Homo sapiens: one gene and its partners. The protein of the gene in region 1 interacts with the protein of each later gene in a pairwise test. Each region holds a gene or a part of one and is shown in the gene's direction. Other genes may lie near its edges. The genes, in order: SNAP23, STXBP5L, NAPA, ABI3, FXR2 and PHF20L1.

Region 1 (5,177 bases):
AGATGGTTTCAAAATAAGTAATGAGAGTACCCCACCTTCTCCCACCAGCTAAGGTCAGAAGTATGACTGGGCTTAATGAGGAACTCTATTAGATAAATCTAAGTTGTCTCTCCTTCAGGCAGATTAAGCTTTTTGTGTAAATACTGCGTGTTCACTGAAAACTGTGACTTACATTTGACCAATCCTGGGATCAAGTCCAATTTCAATTTGTAGTAATACATGAAAAGGTTAGGAAGTATAGGGAAATGTATATCTGGATGATGGAAAGCAGGATGGAGTTATTTTCTTTTCCTTTCAAAGGAGGAGTATTAACAAAATATATATTTTGTGGTAGGCACATGAGGGATGGCCAAAAGAGTAGAAGAGTTGGGAAAGAATGGCAAAACATAAAAAATACATAAATCTAATGTTAGATTATATGATAGTGAGCAAGGCTAAATCTAATGTTAGATTATATGATAGTGACCAAGGCTAGGTATACAGAACTGATAAAGGTTGGGTTGGAGAGCATCTTATAGAAGAGGTAGGATGTGGATTGGGCTTTGAGTGATAAGAAGGATTTGGATGAACAGGGAGGAACAGTGAGGGCATTTCCTATGAAAGGTTCAAAATAAAGATTAACAAGGAGCTTGACTTAACTGAGCTGTGTGACTCATGTAGATGAGAAGTGGAAAGTAAGATATAAGTAGGTAGTAGAGGAACTTGAATGCCAAACTAAGGAGTTGACAGATTGGAGTGGAGTATAAAAAGAAACGACAGTATCTGGAGATTGAATGACTGTACTCACTGCTGAAAGTTTTGTTTTGTTTTTTTTCTGAGACAGGGTCTCTGTTACTGAGGCTGGAATGCAGTGGCGTGATCACAGCTCACTGCAGCCTCTCTTTCCTGGGCACAAGAGATCCTCCCACCTTGGCCTCCCAAAGTGCTAGGATTACAGGCATGAGCCACTGCACACAGCCAAAGTATCCTTTTTTTTTTGAGACGGAGTCTCACTCTGTTACCAGGCTGGAATGCAGTGGCGCAGTCTCAGCTCACTGCAACCTCCGTCTCCTGGGTTCAAGTGATTTCTCCTGCCTCAGCCTCCCGAGTAGCTGGGACTACAGGCGCATGCCACCACACCCAGCTAATTTTTGTATTTTTAGTAGAGACGGGGTTTCACTATGTTGGCCAGGATGGTCTTGATCTCTTGACCTCATGATCCGCCCGCCTTAACCTCCTCAAGTGCTGGGATTACAGGTGTGAGCCACCACACCCGGCCTCAATGTATTCATTTTTAAAGAGGTTCTTAGACATTAATATTTCATCCAGTTCTCAGCTGGTCTTGTAAACCAACAGCGGTTATATTTTTATATTTTCAGTAAGTGTTTTTATGAAACAACATTTTTATGCCATTTCTGTTATAGAAAGTAGAGATTAATTGCTTGTCAGTCAACTTTAGTGTTTGTTTTGGCCATGAGGAAAGGTTTGACAGTGTTCTTCCTAGTCTTATCCATTGGCTTCCTATTCTAACACAAGTCTGTTGACCTGTTTACACCTTGGTTGACCAACTGAAAGTTCTGTATTTTTTGAGACGGAGTCTCGCTCTGTCACCCAGGCTGGAGTGCAGTGGTGTGATCTCGGCTCACTGCAACTTCCACCTCACGGGTTCAAGTGATTCTCCTGCCTCAGCCTCCCAAGTAGCTGGGATTACAAATATGTGCCACCATACTCAGCTAATTTTTATATTTTTAGTAGAGACAGGGTTTCGCCGTGTTGGCCAGGCTGGTCTCAAACTCCTAACCTCAGGTGATCTGCCCGCCTCTGCCTCCCAAAGTGCGGGGATTACATGCGTGAGCCACTGCTCCCGGCCAAAAGTTCATATTTTAATAACTATGACTTGTCAATCAGAGTTTAGCAGATTACTTTAAGCAAACAAGTTAAAATGTACAGATTATTTGATACAAACTCTTAGCTATGTTTTACAAACATAATTGTACCTTTCTCTTGTGTTCCATGTACCTTCTTGGAAGAGTACAGAAGAGAGGAAGTAGATGAATTTTCTTGAGATCAGATGTTAGGAGAACAAGGAGAAAGAAGTCTCCCCTAAAATCTTAGAGGAAGATCAGCTCTAAGTCACGTGTTGATAAATAGGAAGAGCACTGAATTAGACCTAAGATGGTCTAATATCATAGAAAGTGGGAAATGCAGCTACAGAGTATTAATTTTATGTCTCTTTGTGTATCCCAGCCAAGCATAGGCAAGCTTTTCTTGAAGACTGGTGGGAAACAAGGTAGGGTATGGTCCTGAATCAGCATTCTTCAGCCTCTAACCTCAGTAGAACCCTTTCTCAGTGGATCAAGAGAAGGCATTACTTTTTTAGAGATGGCCTCTCCCTCTGTCTCCCGGGCTTGAATGCAGTGGTGCCACCATAGCTCACTGTAGCCTCAAACATCTGGGCTCAAGCAATCCACCCACATCAGCCTCCCAAGTAGCTAGGATTACAGGTGTGTGCCACCATGCCCAGCTAATTTTTGAAATTTTTTGTAGAGACAGGGGTCTTGCTATGTTGCCCAGGCTTGTATCAAACTCCTGGCCTCAAGAAATCCTCCCACTTCAGCCTCCCAAAGCACTGGGATTACAGGCTTAAGCCACTGCACCCAACTGGCACTTCTTTCTTTTTTTTTTTCTGGCACTTCTTGAGAGATGGAATCAAGGGGCTGCTGTAACAAAACAGTTCCCTTAAGAGAAGAAAGTATTATCTCAGTTAAAGATGTCTGATTGTAATTGTCTTTCTTCCACCTATTTCTTTCTTACACCATTGAGACCTTGGCCAGTATGATATCTCTTATCCTCAGCTCTGTTCCTATCATTCTTGCCTGTGTCTTGATCTTTCTAATCTGCTAGTCTGTGTTTCAGTTAGGCTCGTCACATGAATAACCATAACATGAGCTTCTTAAAGGTAGACATGAGATCTTAGTCCTATGTGTAAGGCCTAGTCTTCATACCAGCAGTAGCAGTAACAACCCAGGTCAGGTCCAGAGTTCCTTATTTGCCATTTGGAAATACTTTTTCTTTTCTTTCTCTTTTTTTTTTTTTTTTTTCTCGAGACAGGGTCTCGCTCTGTTACCCAGGCTGGAGTGCAGTGGCAGTCATGGCTCACTGCAGCCTCAACCTATCCTCCAGCGTCAGCCTCCTGAGTAGCTGGGATTACAGGCACATGCCACCACACCCAGCTAATTTTGTATCTTTTGTAGAGACAAGGTTTCACCATGTTGGCCAGGCTGGTCTTGAACCCTTGGGCTCAGGCAGTCTACCCACCTTGGCCTCCAGAAGTGCTGGGATTGCAGGCATGAGCCATTAAGCCCTGCTGGCCATTCAGAAATCTAAAAAACTCCTAAAGTTTTGTTTTATTTTTGCTGTAATGGTGCCACAACTCATTAGGGTATAAAATGTAACCTGAACTGAAGCTATGTTTAGTCTTTATTACTTGCTGTAGATATTAATTGGTTTCACTACAGAAATACTCTTTTTGAGTCAGGGTCTCACTCTGTCACCCAGGTTGGAGTACAGTGGTATGATCTTGGCTCACTGCAGCCTCGACCTCCTAGGTTCAAGTGATCCCCCCACCTCAGCCTCATGAGTAGCTGGGACTACAGGTGCATGTCACCATGCCTGGTTTGTTTTTAAAAACTTTTGTTTCTTCTTCTTTTTTTTTTTTTTTTTGAGACGGAGTCTCACTCTGTTGCCCAGGCTAGAGTGCAGTGATGCAGTCTCAGTTCACTGCAACCTCTGCCTCCTAGGTTCAACCGATTCTCCTGCCTCAGCCTCCCAAATAGCTGGGATTACTGGTGCCTGCCACCACGCCCAGCTAATTTTTGTATTTTTAGTAGAGATGGGGGTTCACCATGTTGGCCAGGCTGGTCTTGAACTCCTGACCTCAGGTGATCCGCCTGCCTCGGCCTCCCAAAGTGCTGGGATTACAAGCATGAGCCACCATGCCTGACCCTGTTTCTTTTCTTTTCTTTTTCTTTTTTTTTTTTGAGACAGAGTTTTACGTTGTCACCCAGACTGGAGTGCAGTGGTACAATCTCGGCTCACTGCAACCTTCGCTTCCTGGGTTCAATCGATTCTCATGCCTCAACCACCCAAGTAGCTGGGATTAGAGGCATGCACCAACACCTTGCTAACTAATGTATTTTTAGTAGAGACGGGGTTTTGCCATGTTGGCCAGGATGGTCTTGAACTCCTGACCTCAAGTGATCCACCCACCTCGGCCTCCCAACGTGCTGGGGTTACAGGCATGAGCCACCGTACCTGGACTTTAAAAAGTTTTTGTAGAGATGAGTTCTCACTATGTTGCTCAGGCTGGTCTCAAACTCCTAAGCTCAAGCAATCCTCCCACATTGGCCTCCCAAAGTGCTGGTATTACAGAAATGAGCCACCACACGCAACGTCACTACAGAAATATTAATGTATTTAATTATGTGGTACTGTCCAAAACATCTTGCCCCCAATGGATTGGGGTAACAGTTGTGGGCCTGTGCATTAATTTAAGGTACTATTCTGAACATGTTAATTTAATCCTTAAACAGTAGCCTTAATATGAGATAGATGTTTTTTATTATTATCATTTTACATCCAGGCTACACTATGTAGTGGAAGAGCTGGGATTCAAAACCAGGCAGAACCCCCTTGCTTTTTTTTTTTTTTTTTTTTTTTTGAGACAGAGTCTTGCTGTATCACCAGGCTGGAGTACAGTGGTGTGATCTCAGCTCACTGCAACCCCTGCCTCCCAGGTTCAAGTGATTCTGCTGCCTCAGCCTCCCGAGTAGCTGGGATTACAGGCGTGCACCACCACGCCTGGCTAATTTTTGTATTTTTAGTAGAGATGAGGTTTCACCATGTTGGTCAGGCTGGTCTCGAACTCCTGACCACGTGATCCATCCACCTCGGCCTCCCAAAGTGCTGGGATTACAGGCGTGAGCCACCGCGCACAGCCCACAAATCCTTTTTTAAAATCACATATCTTAGGCAGTAATTGATAAATTGTAATTCTAATTAACAAGAATTTGAAAGCAGACAGATTTAAAATGGGAAGTCTCAGAATAGTAAACTGCTTGATGTCCCAGTTTAAACATTCTTTTTTTTTATTTTTATTTTTTTGAGATGGTGTCTCGCTCTGTTGCCCAGGCTGGAGT
Region 2 (5,177 bases), on another chromosome or scaffold:
GGCTTATAAGAACTTGCAGTTGTAGGAACTCAAAAATAGCGGGTGTTCTGGTTTAGTAAGAAAACATTTTATGTAATTATACTTTGATATTGAACTTCTAATGAATATGCAAAAGAGAGTTTCTGGTAGGTAGAGAAGATGAGAGTTTATAAAACAAGCATTAGGTTAATGCATAGAGATATTGTTATTGCTATATTTGTTATATTTTATGACATAAAGTGATTTATAATTTTATTGCCCTTTTTTGAGTTGTCTTGGAATGTGCCTATTATATGCAACAAAGGCTACTAAGTTATTTATGTCATATAAATGAATATAGTTTTGTAAATGTGTTTGGCTACATAAGAAATAGAAAAATTGCAAAATTACAGAAATTAACAATTTTTAAAAATACTTTCACAAAAGAAAAGTTTTTTGAAATTATTAAAATTATATTTGTGGTAAACAAGTGATATATGTATAATGAGGTATATTTCAATCACTGTCTCAGCCTATATTCCTAGCAGGGTCATTATAAAAACATTAAATCTATAGTTATTAGTTTACATAAAAGCAAGTTTATTTAGAGTTAATTTAGATAAACAGATTTAATTCTAAGCTACTTTGTGAAATTTGTGTACAGTAATAATTTTTTTCCTCAATAGGAAATAACAGATATTCTGTTCGATGAGGGAAGGTCTTAACAGTGGTTATGAGACAAATGTAAAAGAGTCCTGGAGTTCAAATTTGAACTGCTAGGCAGGGGAATTATGCCCTGATTCTCTAATCTTTGATGTGTTTGCAATTTTCACGATCAGATTCTGAAAATTTTTTCCAAATTCTCTCAATTCATGTATATGACAGTGATACAGGAGAATTTTACCAGAGGTAAAACTGGTATAGGAAAGATAGACTTCTGAAACAGAATGGCATTGGGCTGTTGAGGTCATAAAGCTTGTAGAGAAGGTTTTAAATAAAAAACTTCAGGGAAATGGGTGAATGCAAGAGATAATGGAATACATAGTTATCTTCCCATTTATTCAGGCAAGAGATAGTCATAGGAAGTACCAGAAGTTAAATACATACTACTTTAAAAACATATGGCATGGTAGGAAGAGCACTGGCCTAGGAATCAGAAAATTTGTGTTTTATTTAAAGTTCTGCTAGTTGACAGCCATATACTCTTGGGTAAGCCATTTATCTCCCTTGAGCCTTGATTTCTGCATCTGCAGTGTAGGAATAAGTGTATCTGCTCTCCTTAACTAAGAGACGGTTATTGGGAGGATCAGACAGAATAAGGTGAAGGTAATGCATAAATGGAAAGGATGATAAAATATATACGAATATTATTGTTAAAGTTTGTAAAATCACGTGTTCATAGTAGAGCGAATATAACTAGTGGGTTATAATAATATTAGCTTATGATTTCCAAATAAATTATAAGATAGATAGCTATATAAGTTGTCCACTAACAGTACTGAAGTCTTACTAAATGTGGAAAATACTGTAACATCTTTGGATAGGAATATAGTTAATTTTAAAAAATAGTTATATGGATGTATTATAATTACCTGGTCTATAACAAAACATATAAAAATGGACTAAGGAAATCCCAAAATTAGACCGTTACTGAAATGGGGACTTTATTTAGACTCATAGACTCCCTGATTAAATGTGCAAAAAAATTTCTCTTCTGAGTTCTAAGGAGCTGTCATATTCTGGGTGCTTCTACCTTTTCAACATGGGCAAAACTAAAGTATAAATCTAGACTTGGCTGTTTGAAAGCCTCCTCTCTTCTATCTGATTAGTCATCACATCCCCTCTATTCTATTTCCTTAGTATTTCTGAAATTTATGACCTTTTCTACATCCCCAGTACTTGTTCGTTCCGTCATATTTTCTTGCTTGGTCTTTTGAAATCACTTTCTAACTGATCTCTTTACTTCTAGTTTTACTGGATTACACTTCATTTTGTTACAATAATGGCTATTTCTGAAATACAATGTTAATTATGTCATTTCCTTGCTAAAAATTCTATATTGGTTTCCTACAGCAATGATGCTCTTAAAATGAAAGTCTTATTTGAAACCACAGTAAATAACATCTATTCAAACAAAAAAATGTGGCAACTCATGGGCACACATTTGTTTCAGAAATTATAAGAATAAATTATACAGCCAATTGATAAAAAAACTTTTTATATTTGTTTTTTATTGTGTAATATCGCCCATAGGAAGGTAGTAGGATGTTCGCTAGCCTTAAAAAAGTGAAAGTATAAAGCTGTACCCTTCATAATAAACAAAATATCTATGAGATGTTCAAAGTCATAGAAATGGCAGAAGAAACTTTGGTTCAAGGTCAGCCAAAAAAAAAAAAAAGTTAATGCATTGGGTTACTGCAATCGTTCAGAATGTGTATACATTGGAATGCCTGCATTGTCCAGGTATTTGTGAAATACATGAACTGCCTTTCCTGAACTTGAATTCTGTGAAATACAATTTGAAACTATTGCTCTATAAAATAAATTTCAAATTGCTTACCTTGATGGGTATAGAGTTTCCTTCAGAAGAGATTCCTGTTTACCTTTCCATTTTTATTTGCTTGATTCCCTAAGTATACTGCATTCCCTAAAAGATACCATATTTTCTCATATCTCAATGCCTTCTCTCATTCTTTCGTTTCTGACTAGAATACCTTTTCTACTTTCATACGATTGGATAATTCCCAGCCATCTTTTACCTCATAATTCAAACATCACCTCTATGAGACTAGCTCTGACCACTGCCACCTCAACTACCCACCAGGGTTCTTTTTTTTCTTTTTTAAAAACCTATTCTATGTTTTTCTGTAGCATCTGGCATATACCTATAGTGTGAATTTAGCATCTTCCTGTGATTAAAAAAGTTTCTTAAAAATCTGTCACTGCCGTTATACTATGAACTCTTTGAAAAGCAAATAATTTTTTTTTCTTGTTTCCTTCTTATTGCTAGGGTATACACTATCTAGCTGGCCAGTATTTCTTAACTCTGGTGTCTAAAATAGAGATTTCCAGCACCTCCCCATTCTTAGAGAATCAAAATCTCTAGGGATGAGTCCTAGGCACTTGCATTTTTTTGAATGGCCCCACAGGAGATTTCTATGCACAGCCATTAGTGAAAACCATTATAGTGGGCACTTGATACACTTTAAATGAGTAAAGATGCATATACATGATTGGTCGATTAATTGAAAAAGATATTAAAGCAGAGAGCAATTACTACTTATATATGCCTTAAACATTTTATTTTAATTGAAAACATCTAAATATACAATTTACAAATCATTTGATAAATGACTACGTTTTTCTGTTGAATGTTGGTTCTGTGATTGGAGTTCTGTGTGGACTTCTCTTCCATAAACCTTTCCAAATTCATATCTACAACTTTCAGTTTTGGTTTATTTAAAGCAGAGTAAGAAATTACATGCTTTTGAAGCAAACCAAGTGTCAAGTCCTTCTAGATTATATATACAGTGATATGTATAAAGCAAGGCTTTATTTTGTTCACATCTGTATCATCTATGTATAGAATGGTGCCTGGCCCATTGAAGGCAGTCAAATATTTGTTGAGCAAATAAATGAATAAATTAAAGGAGGGAAGCTATACAGATTGTTGTGTTAAAAGCAAACTAGATATTATTTTGAACAGCTTCTTGGAGTTGCTTTTATGAAATAACTTTTATATAAAGAGGTGGAGAGCATCTAGTGAAAGAGTTGATACCACTTTAGGAACATGGTATATGCTTTTCAAACAGATGTAGAAAAGAAGATTGTAGGAGGATTTAATTAAATTTATTTCAGTTTTTATTGAAGAAGATATTAGGAACATTCTCATTTTTAAATGATCTTTTTGGGGGAACAACTCAGAAGTTCTAGATTGACAGTGACAAACACACAGGGTGTTCTAGACCTAATTAACAAAAGATAAAAATAAGTATATTACCAAAAAAAGAGTAAAATAAGTATATTACCAGAACCAGATGACATAATCCCTAAATTTCTGAATAAACTCTTAAATTAGCCAACTCACTATTCATAATCATTTATAAACTGTTTTTATAAATGGTCACAATGTCAGAAACAACATGTAGTTAACTAGTATAACTTCTGCAGGGAAATGGATTTATAACAATGATGCTCATATCTGACATAATATCAGATCGTACCAGGTAAATAGGTATAGATCAGAAATACAGGCATGAACTGTAGAGAGTTGGGCTTTCCAGGACCCTAGCAAGATGAAAGGAGATTAAATGCCCAGATATCCTTGAATACTATCTCTTCCTCAAGATTTTCATTGTCTCCACATTCTCCTAATTTCACTCCATTTTACTTAAGCGGTTTTGCAACTGAGATTGGGAAAAGATCATGATCACAGTTCCACAGTTATAAAGTTTTCATCCATAAAAAGAATAATAGAAGATTCCCTGAGATGTGTGGATTTGTTACATTCTCCTGTCACCAAAAAGCACAGTAGAGGCATCTTTAAGAATGGTAATGGAGGCAAGGAAGAATTAATCTACCATTAAGACTAAGATGCTAACAAGCGTAATAACCAGAAAGAATTAAAGATTTTTTTTTCTTTTAAGAACCAGAAACCAAAGCCAGATGACTCAGTACTCCAGGCTGTCTGCTTTGCTTATCCTGAGAGCATAAGGGTGTAGGGGCAGGCTTGAGTAAAGGATTATAGATGTGTAGAAGTACGTTTGTAAAATTTTAAAGTTACCTAGAGGGCAATCACATTTTCTCACAAAAAGTCCTTTGGTGCTAGTATTTGTCAGCAAATTGGGTTGTTGGTCTTGTATAGTGTGGTGGTTCTTAAATGTTCTTAAAAACAAACAGTGCCGTCATACTTTTTGTATTTCTCATACATACAGAGCTAAGTTAAAATCTTAACATAATTTCCAAGTATGTTTTTCTGTAGGAGTATTATCACTAAGTAAACGAAATTTCTGTTTCTTAAAATTTAGTGCATTTCTGTAGATATTTCTCTAGCCTCATTTGACGATGTTCCTGTGAAAAATCTCAGGATTAAGTTCATATTTACTTTTAATAATAGGATGATTGTACTGATTTCCTGTATTATAGTTCTGTAAAGCCACTTACATATTGGTTTAATAGCAATGACTTTTGACTATATCCATTAAAAGTATCAAGTAGAA
Region 3 (5,177 bases), on another chromosome or scaffold:
CTGCGGCCAAACCACTTGGGGAGGGGGAAGTGGGAGCTGGGGGGATTAGGTCACCTGAGCTGGCCTGGGCTGGCTGGGTCTTCACCCAGCTCCCCACCAGCCTGACGGCCCCCTCACTCCACAGGCAGTCATGGTTTTCATTCATAGAACTTAGGTTATTGAGCTGGGCAGGGTGGCTCATGCCTGTAATCCTGGCATGTTGGGAGGCTGAGGTGGGAGGATCTTTTGGGCACAGGAGTTCGAGACCAGCCTGGGCAACATAGCAAGACCTCCTCTCTACAACAAATTAGCCTGGTGTAGTGGCATGCACCTGGGGTCCTAGTTCTTGGGAGGTTGAGGCAGGAAAATCGCTTGAGTCCAGGAAGTTGAGGCTGCAGTGAGCTGTGATCACACCACTGCACTCCAGCGTAGGCGACAAAACAAGACCCTGTCTCAAAACAAAAAAAGAAATTAGGTTACTGGAGAGTGTGTGTCCGGCACTTCCCCTTGCCCAGCCTTCCCGCAAGTGTCACATTTGATAAGCATCTTGCAGCAGGCCACAGGGATAGGCAGAGCCCACAGGAGGCTCAGCACCTGCCCTGCCCCCAGGGCGCGTTGCCAACGACAGATGCAGACCAGATGGGCAGCTGCCAACTGGAGCCAGAGTGAAGGGTCCCACCCAGGCCGGGGCTCCTGTCAGTGCTTTCTCTCTCTCTCTTTTTTTTTTTTTTTTTTTTTTTGAGACAGAGTTTCTCTCTCATCTAGGCTGGAGTTCAGTGGCGTGATCTCCACTCACTGCAACCTCTGCCTCCCAGGTTCAAGCGATTCTCGTGCCCTAGCCTCTCGAGTAGCTGGGATTACAGGCGTGTGCTACCATGCCTGGCTAATTTTTGTATTTTCAGTAGAGATGTGGTTTCACCATGTTGGCCAGGCTGGTCTCAGACTCCTGACCTCAAGTGATCCACCTGCCTTGGCCTCCCAAAGTGCTGGGATTGCAGGCATGAGCCACCGTGCCTGGCCAGCTCCTTTTTGCCTCTCCGCTTGCCCTGTCTGTCTCAGCCCTCCAACCCCAGGCAGGGACACGAGCCCTACCCCTTGCGTTCAGGGCAGTGCTGCAGGGATGACTGTGATTAGAACAATAATAGCAGCTGCCATTTATTAGGCCAGACACTGCAGGGTGGTTTAATCCACAGCCCTGTGAGGTTGGCATTATTGTCATCCCCGTTCCTTAGTGGAGGAGAGGGGCTCAGACAAGTGACATGATTTGCCCAGGGACATGTGGCTACAAGCAGGAGTCACTGAGACCCGAAACAAGGTCTGGCTGAGCCCAGGGCCTTGCCCTTTCCTACTGCCCTCAGCAAGGGGGTGGCGTTGGACCAGCCCCTGGTGCAGAGCAGTTAGGCAAGCGCCTGGACACTGGGTGGAGGCGGATGGAAGGTGCGAGGCCCCTTGGAACCTGAGGCCTCCCTGGGGAGCTCTGGGTGTGCCTGGGGGAGGCTGACAGATAGGTGTTGGCCTGGGGGCAGAGCTGGTACTCTTGGGCAGAGGTCTCAAGCCCTCCCTCCCATCCTGGTTTCTCCAGAGCCCTTTGCCAAGTGGCTCTGGACTGGTCCTTCCGCCTCTCTGGCTGTTATCAGAGGCTTCCTAAGGGCCAGGGCCTTGGCCAAGTGCTCGTGCTCACATTCTCTCTGGTGTCACACCATCTGTGCCCTCGTGGATGGGATGGAATTAGGCTAAGGCCCTGGAGTGGCTTGTCCAACATCACCCGCTCAGCCCAGCACGCATAGCCAGGCCTCTAGTGCTGGGGCCCTCCCTTCTCACTCCTGTGTTCCCCCACCTCTCGATCTTCTTCACACCTCAGGTCTTCTTCATACCTCCTCACAGGCGTGGCTGAGGGGTGGGAACTTGAAGGGTCATAGGTCAGCAGGCAGGCACGCAGGAGGTCATGAGTCGCAGGCAGCCCCTTCCTGTGTCCCCTCCAGGGCCGATTCACGATTGCGGCCAAGCACCACATCTCCATTGCTGAGATCTATGAGACAGAGTTGGTGGACATCGAGAAGGTGAGTGGCAGCAGGGCCCTGCATGGGCTGGCAGCCAGGACCAGTGCTGCTCTCTCTTCTTCCCACCAGGGGAGTCCTCTGGTGTCTGAGTGCCGAGAAGGGGGCATGGGGCGCCGGCAGAGCTTGGAGAATGGGGTCTGGCTGTGTCCCAGGCAGGCAGGGCGGAGGGTGTGGAAGCTTCACGGAGGCCTCCTCTCCCTTCCCTGCCCTCCCCTGGAACCCATCCCCCGTGTCTCCCCAGGCCATTGCCCACTACGAGCAGTCTGCAGACTACTACAAAGGCGAGGAGTCCAACAGGTAGCCCCCTTCCTGCCTGCCCCAGCCCCGCAGGGACCGCCACCACTTCCCCTCACTACTCCTCCCCACACAGCTCAGCCAACAAGTGTCTGCTGAAGGTGGCTGGTTACGCTGCGCTGCTGGAGCAGTATCAGAAGGCCATTGACATCTACGAACAGGTGGGGACAGGTGGGGATGGCGGCTTCCACCCTGCCCCCTCTCAGGGCCTGTGCCTCCTCCTAAGCCCCGGCACCTTGTTCTGGAACCACCCCTCCCCCGGCTCACCCTCTGCCTCTCCCCCGACATCCCTTGCCATGTCATCCCCCCACCCTGTCTTCAGCCTGGCTGAATGTTCTCCACCTACGACTCCATGCCGTGCCAGCACCGTCTCTCTCCCTGGCTGTGCCCCTCCCACACCCCTCGCAGAGCTTCCTGGAGGGGCCCAGAGTGAGGCTGGCTAAAGAACCCAGAGGGAGGGAATGGGAAGAAGTGCCAAGAGGCCCAGGGTGGCCGTGGGCACCCCACCCCATGGCCCGATGGTCCTCATCCACAGTGGGAGGGAGGGAGTGTCACATGGGGTCCCCCCAGCGTGCACGGAGCCCTGGGTGATGGCCGAGAAAAAGGCAGGCAGCTGGCCCCCTGGGAGAGAGGGGCGGGCGCCGCCTCTCATGTTCCCACCGCCTGCCGCCGCTCTGCCCACCGCCATGCCAGCCTCCCGTTGGTCCTGACAGCCAGGCTGCCTCCTTCCCACTGTCTCAGGCTCTCAGAAGGCCCACGAACACCTGGCTACAGCCTCCACCCCCACCCAGCCACCATCACACCCTGATCTTGGTCGCTCACGCACTGGCCGCTGACCTCTCCAAGCTGGTCCCTGGCTCCCTGCCCTTGGGGTCCTGGGTTAACAGGGCCTCACCTCGGGACATGAACCAGCTCCCAGCTGGCCCCCCAGTGCCTGGCAGTGGCTCTGGCCCTCTGGCTGCTTGCCCTGAGCTCACCAGTGCCACTTCTCCATGGCTACAGGTGGGGACCAATGCCATGGACAGCCCCCTCCTCAAGTACAGCGCCAAAGACTACTTCTTCAAGGCGGCCCTCTGCCACTTCTGCATCGACATGCTCAACGCCAAGGTAGCACACCCCACGCCCGCAGGACCACCGCACCAGGCCACCATGTGCTTATCTCCAGGCCAGGTCCCGTTGCCCCCGAAGAGGGACGTGCTCCTCCCTCACGTCTGGCCCCTGCCAGCCAGCCTTTGGATGAGAAGTGTGGTTCTCACAGCTGTGTTTCTGTGCTGGCATCACCTGCCCACCCAGCCCTGGAGGCTTTTGCGGGTCCAGCTCCTGCCTCACTTAGTGCTCTTTCCTTCATGGGTGCACTTTTTGAATCCTCACTGCACCCCATTAAAGTCAGCACCATTGTCACCGCGTCTTATGGGTGAAGATGGTGAGGCTGGGACGAGAGTCCCTTGTTTGAGGCCACATGACTAGGGACCTGCAGCCCCAGTGTTCCAGATCTTTGTGACTCCTGCTGTCGTGGCTTTAGCTGTAGCTCACACATGCCCACCTATTTTCAGGACACTTGGCAAAAGAGGGGCCAAAGAGGGCAGTGGGAGGGGGCGTGGCCAGCGGGAAGGAGCTGGAGGGTTGGCGCTAGATTTTGCTTGGCCGGAGTTTTTTTACCATTGCCTGGCAGAAGCACGGAGTCCAGGATTTCCTGGTGTCCCTGGCTCACGGCCTGGGGTGGTGGCCCCACACACCCCACACACACACACCCCACAGAGCCCTGCCCTGCTGTGGGCACCGGTGGTGGGCAAAAGCTTGGGCTTTGTCAGACCAGGTTCCCATTCCCACCCCATGTCTCACCGTGCCCTGGGCAGGTCACTGCCCCTCTCTGGATCTGTTTCCTCACTTTGAAAAGGGGGCTCACCGTCATTTGACCCTCTCAGGGTCCTCAAGAAGCACCAGCCCCAGGCCTGGCATGGAGGATGTGCTCATTTGTCCCCTGCCCCAGCTGAGCCAGGTGGGAGGAGGCAGTGGGTGCCTATCTGGGGAACCTTCCCCCTCCACCCACCTCTCCCTGCAGCCATCTCTGCAGCCAGGCTGGTGCTGAGCTCAGCTACGGGAAGGTACTGACAGACACAGAGCCAGGTGACACCTGAGGCTGGGGGAGGGGTGCAAGAGCTGACTCAATATCACCCGACATCCCCAAGTCCCCTCAGCTGCTAGGCCAGTAGCTCTGAGGACCCTCTTGTTACTAACTCATCTTCTCCCTTCCCTGCTGCCCAGCTGGCTGTCCAAAAGTATGAGGAGCTGTTCCCAGCTTTCTCTGATTCCCGGGAATGCAAGTTGATGAAAGTAAGTGCTGGGTGCTCCGGCCTCCCCCTTCCCGAACCTCAGACGGGGGTGGCTGGGGCTCCAGGTGGGACAATCGCCAAGACTTGTCCAGTAGTTCTCAGAGGGTGTCTTTGTTTTGTTTTGTTTTGTTTTGTTTTGTTTGGCCATTTGAGTCTCCATTTTCCAGATGAAGAAAGTACAACTCGGGGAGTGCTGGAGCTCAGGATGGCTAGGTGGACACACACACACACACTACACACACCACACCACACCACACACACCAAACATACACTACACACACCACACCACACACATCACACCACACCACACACACCAAACATACACTACACACACCACACCACACACATCACACCACACCACACACATCACACCACACGCTACACACACACCACCCCACACACCCCACACACACTACACACACACCACACACAGCAAACACATCACACACCACACATATCGCACACACACTACACACACACGACACACCCCTCACACAAAACACATTGCACA
Region 4 (3,500 bases), on another chromosome or scaffold:
ACATTTGGCCTGGCCTGTACATCACCCACATGTTCAGTGGGTGGGGTGTGTCTTTTCCTCCCCCGCCGCAGACCAGAGTTCCCACCCTTTCGAACTGTAGGCTTTCTCCATGGAACATTCTGAGAGGAAGTCAATTTACTTATTTGTCCCCCAAAGGGGAGAGCTGATCCAGCCACCATTCTCTGCCACCTCCATATTCTCCCCCTCTGCTCCGAAGTCAGCCGGGTGCTTGTCTCCTCCCAGCATCCCTAGGGATGTTGTGTTTTCTCTTTTCCTCCTGTTCCTGCACAGCTAATAATAACCCATACTCTCTTTCCACCAGGAAGTTGCTCCAAAGTGGCTCCATCCTTTCCTGCTACTTTTCCCAATTGCTATGTAGCCTGGTGGGGGGCGGGGGGCGGGGGGCAGGGCCCTCTTTTTCTAGACCTGGCTGCCTCCCCCCCCCAGCCCAGTCTTTATCTTCTTCCTCCTTAGGGGGAAGGGTGCTGGACACAGACCACCCCTCTCTGTCACCTTGAACCCTGTCATGCAGATGGTGAACATGCATATGGAGAAGGTGGCCCGAAGGGAGATCGGCACCTTAGCCACTGTCCAGCGGCTGCCCCCCGGCCAGAAGGTCATCGCCCCAGAGAACCTACCCCCTCTCACGCCCTACTGCAGGAGACCCCTCAACTTTGGCTGCCTGGACGACATTGGCCATGGGATCAAGGTAGAGAGAGGGGCCCTCCTCTTTCCCTCCAACCCACCCTCTCGTGCCTTGTGGCCCCTTTCCCTCCAGAACCCCAGTTCTGCAAGTTTTGTCCCCACTTGCCACTCCTTTCTTTCCCCGCTCCCTGAAACCACCACTCTGAGCTCTTCTCCCTCTCCCTAGATTTTGTAATCCCTCCCTCCAAAACTGGTCTGTACCATCCTCGGAGGATCTGCTGAGTGTGAGATCCTGAGCACCCCTCGCCCCCCCGCCCTGCCCCTGTGGGCACCGGGCGTGTGGGAAGGGGAAGAGGGGGAAGGGAGGATGTCAGGGTGTGCATGAGAATGGCTCCCAGCCACATGAGAACAGCAACTTCCTCTGTCTGGGGGTTTGAGGTCACTGCACTGAGCAGTCACCCCAGAGCTGCTGTTGGTGAGAAGAAGCGGGGATACAGCCACACAAAGGGGACTTGGTGAAGGGAGGGGAGCATGGCGCTGGCGTCTTCTCAGCCTATGTCCTTCTGCGAGGTCAGAAAGGGCACGCACTCACACCCGTCCCACCTTCAATTCCTGTCTCCACACCTTAACATTTCTGTATCAAAATGAGCCCCTTGATATCCTTAACTTATCAGCCCCCCTTAAAGGGGAAACGACATTCTCCCCTTCAACCACCAGGCCTCCTTCCCACCAGTAGTTCTCTGTTGTCCAACTTATATTTTTTTTTTTTGAGATGGAGTTTCGCTCTTGTTGTCCAGGTTGGAGTGCAATGGCACGATCTTGGCTCACTGCAACTTCCGCCTCCCAGGTTCAAGTGATTCTCCTGCCTCAGCCTCCCAAGTAGCTGGGATTACAGGCGCCCGCCACCATGCCCGGCTAATTTTTTTTTTTTTTTTTTGTATTTTTAGTAGAGATAGGGTTTCTCCATGGTGGCCAGGCTGGTCTTGAACTCCTGAACTCAGGTGATCCTCTTGCCTGAGCCACCCAAAGTTCTGGGATTACAGGTGTGAGCCACCACTCGCGGCCCAACTTATATTCTTTGTGCTTCAGCTCAAATCTCTTTTGTCTTGCCCCTGGTGAAGCCCATGGGGTAACACTGTACCCACCCCTTGGGGAAGTCCCATTGGTAACAGCAGTTCCCTCTTTCATGTAGGCGTGCACCCTGTCATTTGCGCATCCCCTCTAAGTGGCCTGGGTCTTGCTCCTCTCTGCCCTAACTCCCCAAAGCCAGTTCCACAAATCTTCGAAAATGAAAGGTGGGACACTTCTAAGTGTGATGTGTCCTCTCCTTTCTCCGCCCCCTCCTCAGCCCGATCAAAGTTAGGGACCACCAAGCCAGGGCCCCAGCTTCCTGGGCTCTGAGATGGTCTGGGGGAGGGACAGGGGTGCTGGGCCCACTCAACCCGCTGTGGCTGTGCAGAGGAAGTGGCTGTGGGCTTTGGTAGAACTGAGTCCCAGAACCCAGGCAATGACAAGGGGGTGGGGTGGGGGAAGTGTAGGAGAGGGGCCTGAGAAGTGGAAGTGGGAACTGGCTATGCCGGGCTCTCCCTCCCGGTTCCCGTCCGCCCCTCCTCCATTTCCTCTTGGGGATGAGGGTGGAGGGAGGCCCCTCACCCCAAATGTAAGCCCTACCTCCCGCTCCCTCGCAGGACCTCAGCACGCAGCTGTCAAGAACAGGCACCCTGTCTCGAAAGAGCATCAAGGCCCCTGCCACACCCGCCTCCGCCACCTTGGGGTGAGGCCTCGCCGCGACGCCAACTAGCCTAGCCCTGCCCCGCGCGACCCTGAAACTCTCCTCCCCCAGCCTCGCCACCCACCCCTGGCGCCCCCGGGTGCTCAGGCCGTCATGCTGGATGCCTGGCGCCAAACCTCCCCCTCGGCCACCTGCCCTTCCTGCTCGCACCCGACCCCTGCTGGCCAGAAGCCTTCCTCCTTCCTCCTAATACCCACTCCCTGCCCCCCGCCAGGAGACCACCCCGGATTCCCGAGCCAGTGCACCTGCCGGTGGTGCCCGACGGCAGACTCTCCGCCGCCTCCTCTGCGTTTTCCCTGGCCTCGGCCGGGTGAGACCTACAAGCCCACGTGGGTGGGTGGGGGGTGGGAAGTGGCTTTTGAGAGGGGCCACCTGCCAGTGGTCATAGTGACTCCTGGGCTTGAAAGGACCCAGTTACTCCTGGGTCACACGTGCAGGGCTGGGGTCAGGATTGGAGGGGTGGGGCCAGTTGGGGATGCTGCATTAGGGAAGGCGTGTCCGCCAACCGGGCTCTCTGGTGTTCAGCAGCGCCGAAGGTGTCGGTGGGGCCCCCACGCCCAAGGGGCAGGCAGCACCTCCAGCCCCACCTCTCCCCAGCTCCTTGGACCCACCTCCTCCACCAGCAGCCGTCGAGGTGTTCCAGCGGCCTCCCACGCTGGAGGAGTTGTCCCCACCCCCACCGGGTAAGGAGGTCCACCCTCTTCTTCCCAACCGTGGGGTCGCTTTTCTGCCTCCTGCCACTCCCCAGCCCACCTCTCTTGGATCTGCCCCGGCCAGCCTCAGTGAATGCCTCCTCCAAGGAGCGCAGCACAGGGGCGAAAGGAGACAGAGGAAGTGAACTAACATAACTTAGCGCCTGCTGTATACCAGACCCTGTGTTCGAAGATTCTCATCCATTTTCTCATTTGAACTTAATCCTGGCCGGGCGCGGTGGCTCACCCCTGTAATCCCAGCAGTTTGGGTGGCCGAGGCGCGCGGATCACCTGAGGTCGGGAGTTCGAGACCAGCCTGACCAAAATGGAGAAATCCGGTCTCTACTAAAAATACAAAATTGACCGGGCGT
Region 5 (5,177 bases), on another chromosome or scaffold:
TAATTCTTTTATTTTTGTTTATTTATTTTGTTTTTTGAGTCACGGTCTTGCTGTGTTGCCCAAGCTATGGAGTGCAGTGGTGCAATCACAGCTCATCACAGCCTCGACCTCCCTGGCTCAAGTGATCCTCCCACCTTAGCCTCCTAAATAGCTGGGACTACAGGCACAAGCCATCATACCCTGCTAATTTATAAATTTTTTGCAGAGATGAGGTTTCCCTGTGTTGTATGGGCTCTCTAATTTTTTTAAAAAACATCTTTATTGAGCTGAAATTGACATACAACAAAGTAGACATATTTAAAGTGTGCCATTTGTTAAGTTTTGACATGTATGTAACTGAGTCCATCACTGCAATCAAAGGAATGAACATTTCTGTCACTCCCAAAAGTCCTCCATCAACTACCAATCTTCTGTCATTATACATTAAATTGCCCTTCCTGATTTTCGATAGAAATGAAAAGGCAGTTCAATTCAGCTAAGAAAGGATAGTCTTGTCTTTTCTTTTCTTCTTTTCTTCTTTTTTTTTTTTTGAGGCAGAGTTTGCCCTGTTGTCCAGGCTGCAGTGCGATGGCATGATCTTGACTGACTGCAGTCTCTAACTCCTGGCTTCAAGTGATTTTCATGCCTCAGCCACCCTGAATAACTGAGGTTACAGCCATGTGCCACCACGCCTGGCTAATTTATATATTATTATTATTATTATTTTTTTTTTTTTTTAGTAGCAATGGGATTTTGCCATATTGGCCAGACTAGTCTCGAACTCATGGCCTCAGCTGATCTGCCAGCCTCGGCCTCCCAGTGTTGGGATTACAGGCGTGTGCTACCGCCCCTGGCCAGAAAGGATAGTCTTCAACAGACAGTGCTGGAACAAGATATCTTTAGGTAAAAAATGGGCTGGGCACAGTGGTCACACCTGTAATTCCAACATTCTTGGAGGCTAAGGCGGGTGCATTGCTTGAGTCCAGGAGTTCAAGACCAGCCTGGGCAACATAGCGAAACCCTGTCTCTATTAAAAAAAAATTTTAATTTAAAAATATATTAAAAATAAAAAAAAGTGGCCTGGTGCGATGGTTCATACCTGTAATCCCAGCACTTTGGGAGGCTGAGGCGGGTGGATCACCAGAGGTCGGGAGTTTGAGACCAGTCTGACGAACATGGAGAAACCCTGTCTCTCTTAAAAATACAGAATTAGCCAGGGTCGTGGCCCATGCCTGTAATCCCAGCTACTTGGGAGGCTGAGGCAGAATTGCTTGAACCTGGGAGGCGGAGGTTGCGGTGAGCCAAGGTTGCACCATTGCACTCCAGCGTGGGCAACAAGAGCGAAACTCTGTCTCAAAAAAATAAATAAGAATTTAAAAATTTAAAAAACATTGATCAATACCTCACCTTATATATAAAATTTAATTCAAAATGGATCATAGGCTGGGCACAGTGGCTCACATCTTTAATTCCAGCTTTGGGAGGCTGAGGCAGATGGATCACCTGAGGTCAGGAGTTCGAGACCAACCTGGCCAAGATGGTGAAACCCCGTCTCTACTAAAAATATAAAAAATTAGCCTGGTGTGGTGGCGGTTGCCTGTAATCTCAGCTACTCGTGAGGCTGAGGCAGGAGAATTGCTTGAACCCGGGGGGTGGAGGTTGCAGTGGGCCAAGATTGCGCCATTACACTCCAGCCTGGGTGACAGAGTGAGACTCTGTCTAAAAATAAAGGATTATAGATGTAAATGTAAAACAAAAAACTAAAAGTTTAAGAAGAAGACATAAGAGAAAACCTTTGTGGCCTTGGATTAGGCAAAGATTTCTTTTTCTTTTTCTTTTTTTTTTTTTTGAGATGGAGTTTTGCTCTTGTTGCCCAGGCTGGAGTGCAATGGCATGATCTTGGCTCACTGCAACCTCTGACTCTCAGGTTCAAGTGATTCTCTTTCCTCAGCCTCCCAAATAGCTGGGATTACAGACATGCACCACCACACCTGGCTAATTTTTGTATTTTTAGTAGAGACGGGGTTTCACCATGTTGGCAGGCTGGTCTCGAACTCCTGACCTCAGGTGATCTGCCTGCCTCGTCCTCCCAAAGTGCTGGGATTATAGGCGTGAGCCACTGTGCCTGGCCTGGGCAAAGATTTCTTAGATATGAAACCAAAAGCACAGTTGATAAAATAATAAATTCATAAGCTAGACCTTTTTCAAAATTAGAAATCCCTAATTGTATGTGAAAAATAGGGAGAAGGTAGAAAAATTGGGAGCATAGGGGTGAATGCATGGCTTTGGCCTCCTTAGTGAGGACACAGACCACAGGAGGTGGATCAGCTGTTCAGTCATCCCTCTTGCTCTTGTCAAAATATCAAGATTGGAGTCTTCCATAAATTTTATTATCCTTTATAAATTATCAGTGTCATTCTAGATTCAATTCTAGTATTAAAAAACCGATGTTTTTAAATTAAGTCTTAATTTTTCCTTCTGTAAATTGTGTTCATCACAATTTTGAACTTGTCTAGTGTTCCGATTATTGTCTTAGGACCCATGCATCAGGGCAGCGAGTCTGCTCAGATCTCTTGCTGTATTGCGGAGGTAGGCCCTTCTCTCTCGACAGATCCTCATGTCCTCTAGGTGTTCCAGGACAGCCTCACACTGTCTCATGGGATATTCTTAGCCTTGCTGAATGTTGTTGGTATTTTAATTGAACTCTGGCAGGCTGCTTAGCACAACAGGAGGCAGACAGATAGGGAGGCCCCTGTGGGAGCCTGAGTAGATCATTGGTTTCCAGGCTGTTCTGATGCAGGTGGTACATACACCTCTCCATGACAATATCATTTCCTTTCTCTGTTTGACTGCCCATATTCTTTCCCCAGTGCAGCCTTTCAGGCTGTCTCATTACACCACTTGTGTCCCTATCTAAAACTCAAGTTTAAGGTTTTGTGGTGTCTTATTCCCTTGATGGCTAAGGTGGAAGTAAAAGGTCATTTTATTTTTTTTGCTTTTTTCTAAAATCCATTCTAGGGCTTTGTGAAGGATGTCCATGAAGACTCTGTCACCATCTTCTTTGAAAACAAGTAAGACCTTGGGAATAGAGAATCCAGCATACTAGGTCCTAGAAGGAGAGTGGAGAAGAGGGGGCAGCTGAGTCCTATGAGGCATGTAATAGGTTGGGAGAGCTGAGGGTTTGGGTGGGAACTCATATGGATCCCAGGAGAGGAAAGGGCTGAGAATTTGGTGAGGGTGGGGGCATTTGACCCAGTATTTAGAGTCTAGAAAGAGATGGAAGACACTACTATGGAGCAGGGCCTGGGGTTTAGCCTCTAATTATCCAGATAGGTGGAACTCGCCCAGCTGAGGCAATAACCCTTTTGTAAAGAAATGGGCAACCATATCAGTCAGAGTAGCTTTTTCATATTATTGTTTCTATTATAGCTGGCAGAGTGAGAGACAAATTCCTTTTGGGGATGTCCGGCTACCACCTCCAGCTGACTATAATAAGGAGATCACAGAAGGGGATGAAGTGGAGGTAAGGGCTGTGGAGTACACCTTTCTAAATGTCACTTTTCCCCAGGATTCTAGGCTTTTCTCTGGTTGGTTCATGTTCCTTCCTCCCCAACTAAGCCATATCCAGCCATGTAGCCTATGGAAATGTAAAATGCAACAGTTCCCCTTTTATCACTGTTGTGATCAGCCAAACTCTCAGGAACATCCCCAGTTTCAGGCGATTTGCCTTCCATTTATGGTAACAACATCTAAAATCCAGTGCCCTCTGATTTTTTTGTTGTTGTTGTTGTTGTTGTTTTGAGATGGAGTCTTGCTCTGTTGCCCAGGCTGGAGTGCAGTGGCGCGATCTCAGCTAACTGCAACCTCCGCCTCTTGGGTTCAAGCAATTCTTCCACCTCAGCCTCCCAAGTAGCTGGGATTACAAGCACCTGCCATCATGCTCGGGTAATTTTTGCATTTTTGTAAAGACATGGTTTCACCATGTTGGCCAGGCTAGTCTTGAATTTCTGACTTCAGGTGATCCACCCGCCTCAGCTTCCCAAAGTGCTGGGATTACAGGCATGAGCCACCATGCCCTGCCGTCCTCTGATTTTAATTAGTTCCTTCCTCTGGTTTCTTGTATCCTTGGTTTAAGATACATCCCAGGCTGGATGCAGTGGCTCACACCTGAAATCCCAGCACTTTGAGAGGTCGAGTGGGGCAGATCACCTGAGGTCAGGAGTTCAAGACCAGCCTGGCCAACATGATGAAACCCCATCTCTACTAAAAATACAAAAAATTAGCTGGGCGTGGTGGCGGGCGCCTATAATCCCAGCTACTTGGGAGGCTGAGGCAGGAGAATCGCTTGAACCCAGGAAGTGGAGGTTGCAGTGAGCTGAGATTGTGCCATTGCACTCCAGCCTGAGCACCAAGAGCGAAACTCTGTCTCAAAAAAAAAAAAAAAAAGATGCATCCCAAATACCTTTTTTTTCTTTTTGAGATGAAGTCTCACTCTGTTGCCCAAGCTGGAGTGCAGTGGCGCGGTCTCAGCTCACTGCAACCTCCACCTCCTGGTTCAAGTGATTCTCCTGCCTCAGCCTCCTGTGTAGCTTGGAGTACAGGCATGTGGCACCACACCCGGCTAATTTTTGTATTTTTAGTAGAGGTGGGGTTTTACCATGTTGGCCAGGCTGGTCTTGAACTCCTGACTTCAGGTGATCAGCCCACCTCAGCCAAAGTCCTGGGATTATGGGCATAAGCCACCGCGCTTGGCCTCTTTTTTTTTCGTGGAAGTGGGGTCTCACTGTGTTGCCCAGATCGTTCTTGAACTCCTGAGCTCAAGAGATCCTCCCACCTTGGCCTTCCAAAGTGCTGGGATTATAAGCTTGAGCCACTGTGCCCAGCAGCCCCAAATATCTTAATGGTTGTTCTATTGTTTATGTTGCCCAAGCTGGTCTTGAACTCCTGGGCATAAGCAGTCCTTTTGCCTCAGCCTCCCAAAGCGCTGAGATTACAGGTGTGAGCCCCACCATGCCCGGCCTCCTCATCCCTTTCTTGATGCTTTTGGGTGGTCTTCAATATCTCTTTGATTCTCTACTTTTCTTTAGGTTTATTCTCGAGCCAATGAACAGGAACCTTGTGGCTGGTGGCTGGCCCGGGTGCGGATGATGAAGGGAGATGTGAGTGACTGGGAATGCCTTTGGAGAACTACTGAAACA
Region 6 (5,177 bases), on another chromosome or scaffold:
AACTCAATGACTGCATTTCATCCCGTTCTTTGTGTTTATTTTCCAATGGTCCTTTGGAGAAGAATCCAGCTGAAGGGAATACAGTATTTGTTTATAATGATAAAAAGGGCACCGAAGACCCAGGAGACTCACATCTTCAGTGGCAGCTCAATCTCCTTACACACATAGAAAATGTGCAGAACGAAGTTACCAGCAGGATGGACCTAATAGAAAAAGAAGTCGATGGTAATTTAAGAAAGAACTAAAATACAGTTACTATAGTGAATTTATTGTTACTATGAAGAAGTTACTTAAAATTCTTAAATTATGGGATGAAAACTGCAGATACTCTCCATACCGATGGGGCTTTATTACTCCCTTTGTATTGTATTTAACACATTTGGGATCTTTTACGCTTAAAACAATGTGACCGGGTATGACCTTAGGTTGTTTTTACTTTTTTAAGGTGGATATTTATTAAATACTGTCTATTTGCCAGGCTCCAGATAGATCACTTATGGAATAAATTGATTAGTTTCATTGAACTAAGCTTTCTTTGGAAGTCAACATAAGGAATTTAAGCATGTTTGAAATGTGAAAACATTTTGAATATTTTTTACTTTGGTTAGCACTTGTTAAATTAACAAAAACTTCTACAAAGTTAAGTAGGTAAACCTTAAGTGGTTTTCTTTTATATTTTAAAATTGTGTCATCACACAGGAGGCCTGAAAAGTGGGCAAGAAAGATACTATCACTACTTTATAGTTGAGAAACTAGAGTAACTTAGACTACCTGATTCTCAGTCCATGTTGTTCTTAATGCTTTCTGACTCCTGTTTCTTCCTAACATCATAGACGATATTCTGCACCCCAACTTTACTTTTTTTAATTTGGCATAAGCACGTGATACCTCTCCTCTACACTAAGTTAGAGCTCCTACTCCTTTTTTTCCCCCTTGAGAGAAGAAGAGAGAAAATGGAAACCCATTTTAGAAGCCTCTTCCATCTGGGTATAAGCTAACTGTAGAGTTAATGTGATGTTTTGAGTCCATGTTTGAAGAAAAGAAAATGCATCTTGATACTATTTCATATTATTAGGGTAGATTTCCAAAGGAAACATTAATAAAAACTATAGAATATAATCAATTGCATTCTGCCTACAATTTTAATACGCTTGCATGTCTTTTAAAAAGTAGTGTTAAAATAGTGGAACTGAAAAGAACACTGAGAAATTGCTACTTCCTTTTCTTTGTTAAGAAGAGCTTCTGGATTAAAAAATATGATTAGGTATGTTTTATGTAGAGATGACGAGTCTAAATTAATAGAAAGCTTGAGCAAACATAGGGAACTGTTGTTATCTTATTCCAGAAGTGAGTAAAAGGAGACCTTCAAAATGAAGTTAGTGTGTGTATATGTTTATGTGTGTGTGTATATGTATTTTCCCCCTTATATATAAAAATACATAATTCCTATATATATAAAGGGGAAAATTATCTTAAATGACAGATAAAAATTGCCAAGAGGGACTAGAACTCTGTGGGGTGGGATGACAGGACGCTAACCTCTCGGAAATGTCTTGAGTATGTTGGCCTTCTAAAGATGGGGAAGTGAACCCTTAACTCCATCACAGCTCCAACTTTCTGATTGTTTCATTTTCTGACTGTTCTTCCAGTTGCAGTTTAAATTTGTTTATCTTCTTCTCTCTTTTAGTTCTGGAAAGCTGGCTTGATTTCACAGGGGAGTTGGAGCCACCAGATCCTCTTGCAAGATTGCCCCAACTTAAACGCCACATAAAACAGCTCCTAATTGACATGGGCAAAGTACAGCAGATAGCAACTCTTTGCTCTGTATGACAACAGTGAACACTTAATGAAAGAATGTGGCTTTCTTCAGTCAAAGCATTTTTATTATCCACGTGATGGCTAAGTGGATAATTTAAAAGCTTAGTAATGTCTGGTCATTCACTGATTTGTGATGTCAATAGGATGGCACCTTGGAAAGAAAAATGAAGAACAACTTTATCAAGGAAGCTAGTATTTAAAAACAAATTCATGAGCAAGCTGCAAATGAGAATGTGTTATATGCCAAGGAACAATGAAGTAGAATATAATGTATACTAAGGGATTTCAAGTTCTCAGAATTTTTGAGTAGTTGCTTACGTGAAGCTCAAGATACCTGTAGAAAGAAATATGGTATATTTGTATAGTTTTTAATAGAAAGATCTATGTTTATAAACCAGCACTTGGCCAAAAACAAAATTGTAAAGGAAATTTAAATTCTGGAGAATTCTACAGGGTTGCTCTAAGAACTGTCTTCTCAGCAGTTGATCCAGCTGTACGGAAATTTAGGGTATTTAAACTTTTAAAGGATCATGAGCTGTTTCTTGGGCGATGAATGTTCTCAATCAGAAAACTGACAGTAGAAATCTCACTTCTGGGGAAAACAGTTGTGGAATTCTTACTTCATTATGAATGTATTTAAAAAACAAACACCAAATAATTGGAATATATTGCAGGCATTAAGCTCATTAAAAACAAACTGGCTTGCAGAAGGGTCCGATGTGCCAAGTGATCATGATTCTGCTGGAAAGAGGATTTTAAATATTGTGGGAGTTCTCCCACCCTAAGTCTTACATAATGCCACCAGTCCATCCAAAACCTATATATCACCTATACTATATATATCATATATATAGTTGAATGGCAGTATTCAGGCTCAACGTACAGTTTGATCCTGAGTATGCTTGGTGTTTGCCTTCAGAAAAAAAAAAATACATTGTAAATAACCTCAGCTGGGATGAGGAGTGACAGAATATCAAAATAATTTGTGGCTGTGGATTTTTTTAACTGCTAGTAGTGGAATACTGGAAAAGCTTCATTTCTGAAGATGAATTTTATTTTTAAAAAATACATGCACACTCAAAACTTTTAGCTTTGATCACAAGTGGACAAATTTCTGAAACCAAAGGCAACTAAGTTGCTGTGTTAGCTCTTGCTGGATTTTGAGCCTAGGTCCTACTGTCTGCCAGTACTCATGTGAGTTGTATGTGCCCCCAGTGCTACATACGCAGGTATGCGTAAGTGTGTATGCTTGTTTTAAACAAACACTCAACGTACATATGTACATAATCTACACATATTTATATCACATATCTAGTTTTATTACTATAGACTATACGAATTGGTGGTTAACATGAAATGTTACCTTTTAACAGACTGTTTTTAAAAATTAAAAATGTATGTATAGGTTTTGAAATTTTTTTAAAAGGGGAGAAAGACTGTTAAGAGGAGGCTATTTGATGACATAACACTTGAATATTTTATGCCTCATTCTGTTTATCAGTTCTCGCAATCTGTATAAATGCATTTTAGAACTGATAGACAGTAAACTTGAATTTATCTTTGATAAGAATACATGCCACTGTACATTCAGATATTATTTAAATTTGCAAACACATTGTTCTATATGTAAGGGTACTGTATGTAAAACTCTGTATTAAAACTATTCCACATATCCTAAAATTTCAGCTTGCCTTTTTGCGGCCTTATATTTTGATGTAAAGATTAAAAGAATGTGCAAAACAGTCAGAAATTTTTATTGCCTTTTGAGATTCTCCAACTTGACAAATGTGCCAAAGATCAACAGACAGAAAATATCATCCTGTGTATTTACTTGTCATACTTTAACTTTGTGAAAGATCTTACTGATAAATGAAAAGCTTTAGCAGAGGTGGTATTGTGGGGTAATTGCTTAAATTTACATATCAAAGTAAAAAAGTAGTGCCTGTATTCCATGTGTGGAGTAAATTTGCTAATGTCTATATTTTATGATTGATACTATTATTTTTCCTTTGCATTTTAAAATAGTGGCTCTAATATTTTCCCTGTCATGGCTACATTCTAGACATTGAATTTATATCTTCTTTTTTTCAGATACGGAGCAAATAGCATCCTTAACCTATGAATAATGGTGTTGCCTAGATTCTTGTCACACACACAGAAGACCCTTTGTACCTAGTAACATTCATCCTCTTGATTCCTGGTGAACACGGTTAAATTCATGCACATTTGTTCTTGTAGTTTCTAAAAATTAGATCAATTTATTTGTTAGCCAGCAAATTGAAAATTCCATTATTAGATTAATGAAATTTTTGCTCTGCTTATATGTATACGAACTGGAAATCTGAATTTTTAAATTTAGATCTTTAAATCAAATTATTTTTATGCATATTTTCATTTAATATAGAGTATACCAATCGATTGAAGCCTTTCACAAGTAGTGCGCTGAGCTTTTCTTATTGAAGAGAGTGAATTAGTTTCTGAGAAGTCAGTCTATTGTGAAAAGTTTCAGATGAGATTATTTTCTTTTAGTCTTTTTAAATATCACTATATGTATTTAAATAGAAGCAATAAACTAGAGAGAGTGTTTCTTGAAAAGACAATGTTTTATTTGCCACCAGGCAGAACAGAATGAGCATTGGTAGAGAAGGCTCCCTCTTGGTATGTTACTGATAAACTTGTACTTCCTCATACTTGTTTGTGGTTCTACTGACTTATTTCCAAACTTAAGAGTAATGTACTTCGAAAACAACTTGGTTATTCTTTAAATTTCAGGTAAAACCCCTTTTCCTAACACTCATCTTATTTCCACTGTCTTATTTCCTCTCAGATGTTCATATTTCACATGTTCAAAATGAAGCGTACTATTTCCCCTCCAATAAACGAAGTCTCCTGCCAACTTCACTGTCTCTGTTAATAACGTTACCCTAAGAGTTCAGGCTTCAAACACCGAGTCCTCCCTCATATCCATATCATTAAAACAGATAATATTGTCTTCTTACTTCTGAATCCTACTGAAGGTCCAACATTTTTTATAAAATAATGTCATGAAGATACTACCACTGGCCTCTGAAACTGTAACTTTGCCTTTATTCTAATTCATCACAATTGTCACTGCCACACTGTTCCATCCATTGCACATGTTCCATGCATTGTACATGTTACCTGCAGTATCTAATTTGTTCATAAAATAAGGTAAAATGATCATTTTCTAGATGAGGCTGAGGGATAGAGACATTTAGAAACTTATCCTGGATAAGACATAAGGGGGCAGGTTCAGGATTCAAATCCTGTGCTATTCAAGTTCATAGTCTTTCCAGCATATGTGCTTCAACTATTCTTGTCATTTCAGTTTTCTGCTC

What was found.
Region 2: the proteins of SNAP23 (region 1) and STXBP5L interact in a two-hybrid assay, tested with the Homo sapiens proteins (one study listed by IntAct).
Region 3: the proteins of SNAP23 (region 1) and NAPA interact in binary tests that used the Homo sapiens proteins (3 or more experiments, as listed by UniProt).
Region 4: the proteins of SNAP23 (region 1) and ABI3 interact in a two-hybrid assay, tested with the Homo sapiens proteins (one large-scale study listed by BioGRID and IntAct).
Region 5: the proteins of SNAP23 (region 1) and FXR2 interact in a two-hybrid assay, tested with the Homo sapiens proteins (one large-scale study listed by BioGRID and IntAct).
Region 6: the proteins of SNAP23 (region 1) and PHF20L1 interact in a two-hybrid assay, tested with the Homo sapiens proteins (one study listed by IntAct).

What each region holds. Positions count from the first base shown.
Region 1 is NC_000015.10:42,515,371-42,520,547, forward strand, and holds part of SNAP23 (synaptosomal-associated protein 23), read left to right. Parts: intron 1-5,177. UniProt on the Homo sapiens protein: Essential component of the high affinity receptor for the general membrane fusion machinery and an important regulator of transport vesicle docking and fusion.
Region 2 is NC_000003.12:120,910,282-120,915,458, forward strand, and holds part of STXBP5L (syntaxin-binding protein 5-like), read left to right. Parts: intron 1-5,177. UniProt on the Homo sapiens protein: Plays a role in vesicle trafficking and exocytosis inhibition.
Region 3 is NC_000019.10:47,490,278-47,495,454, reverse strand, and holds part of NAPA (alpha-soluble NSF attachment protein), read left to right. Parts: intron 1-310; exon of another isoform or gene 311-427; intron 428-1,853; exon of another isoform or gene 1,854-1,961; coding exon 1,962-2,039; intron 2,040-2,280; coding exon 2,281-2,336; intron 2,337-2,409; coding exon 2,410-2,494; intron 2,495-3,335; coding exon 3,336-3,440; intron 3,441-4,598; coding exon 4,599-4,667; intron 4,668-5,177. UniProt on the Homo sapiens protein: Required for vesicular transport between the endoplasmic reticulum and the Golgi apparatus. Together with GNA12 promotes CDH5 localization to plasma membrane.
Region 4 is NC_000017.11:49,217,207-49,220,706, forward strand, and holds part of ABI3 (ABI gene family member 3), read left to right. Parts: intron 1-532; coding exon 533-709; intron 710-2,333; coding exon 2,334-2,419; intron 2,420-2,651; coding exon 2,652-2,747; intron 2,748-2,962; coding exon 2,963-3,120; intron 3,121-3,500. UniProt on the Homo sapiens protein: May inhibit tumor metastasis. In vitro, reduces cell motility.
Region 5 is NC_000017.11:7,603,970-7,609,146, reverse strand, and holds part of FXR2 (RNA-binding protein FXR2), read left to right. Parts: intron 1-2,997; coding exon 2,998-3,050; intron 3,051-3,408; coding exon 3,409-3,502; intron 3,503-5,066; coding exon 5,067-5,138; intron 5,139-5,177. UniProt on the Homo sapiens protein: mRNA-binding protein that acts as a regulator of mRNAs translation and/or stability, and which is required for adult hippocampal neurogenesis. Specifically binds to AU-rich elements (AREs) in the 3'-UTR of target mRNAs.
Region 6 is NC_000008.11:132,844,094-132,849,270, forward strand, and holds the end of PHF20L1 (PHD finger protein 20-like protein 1), read left to right. Parts: intron 1-59; coding exon of another isoform or gene 60-62; coding exon 63-225; intron 226-1,687; coding exon 1,688-1,830; 3' UTR 1,831-4,714; downstream 4,715-5,177.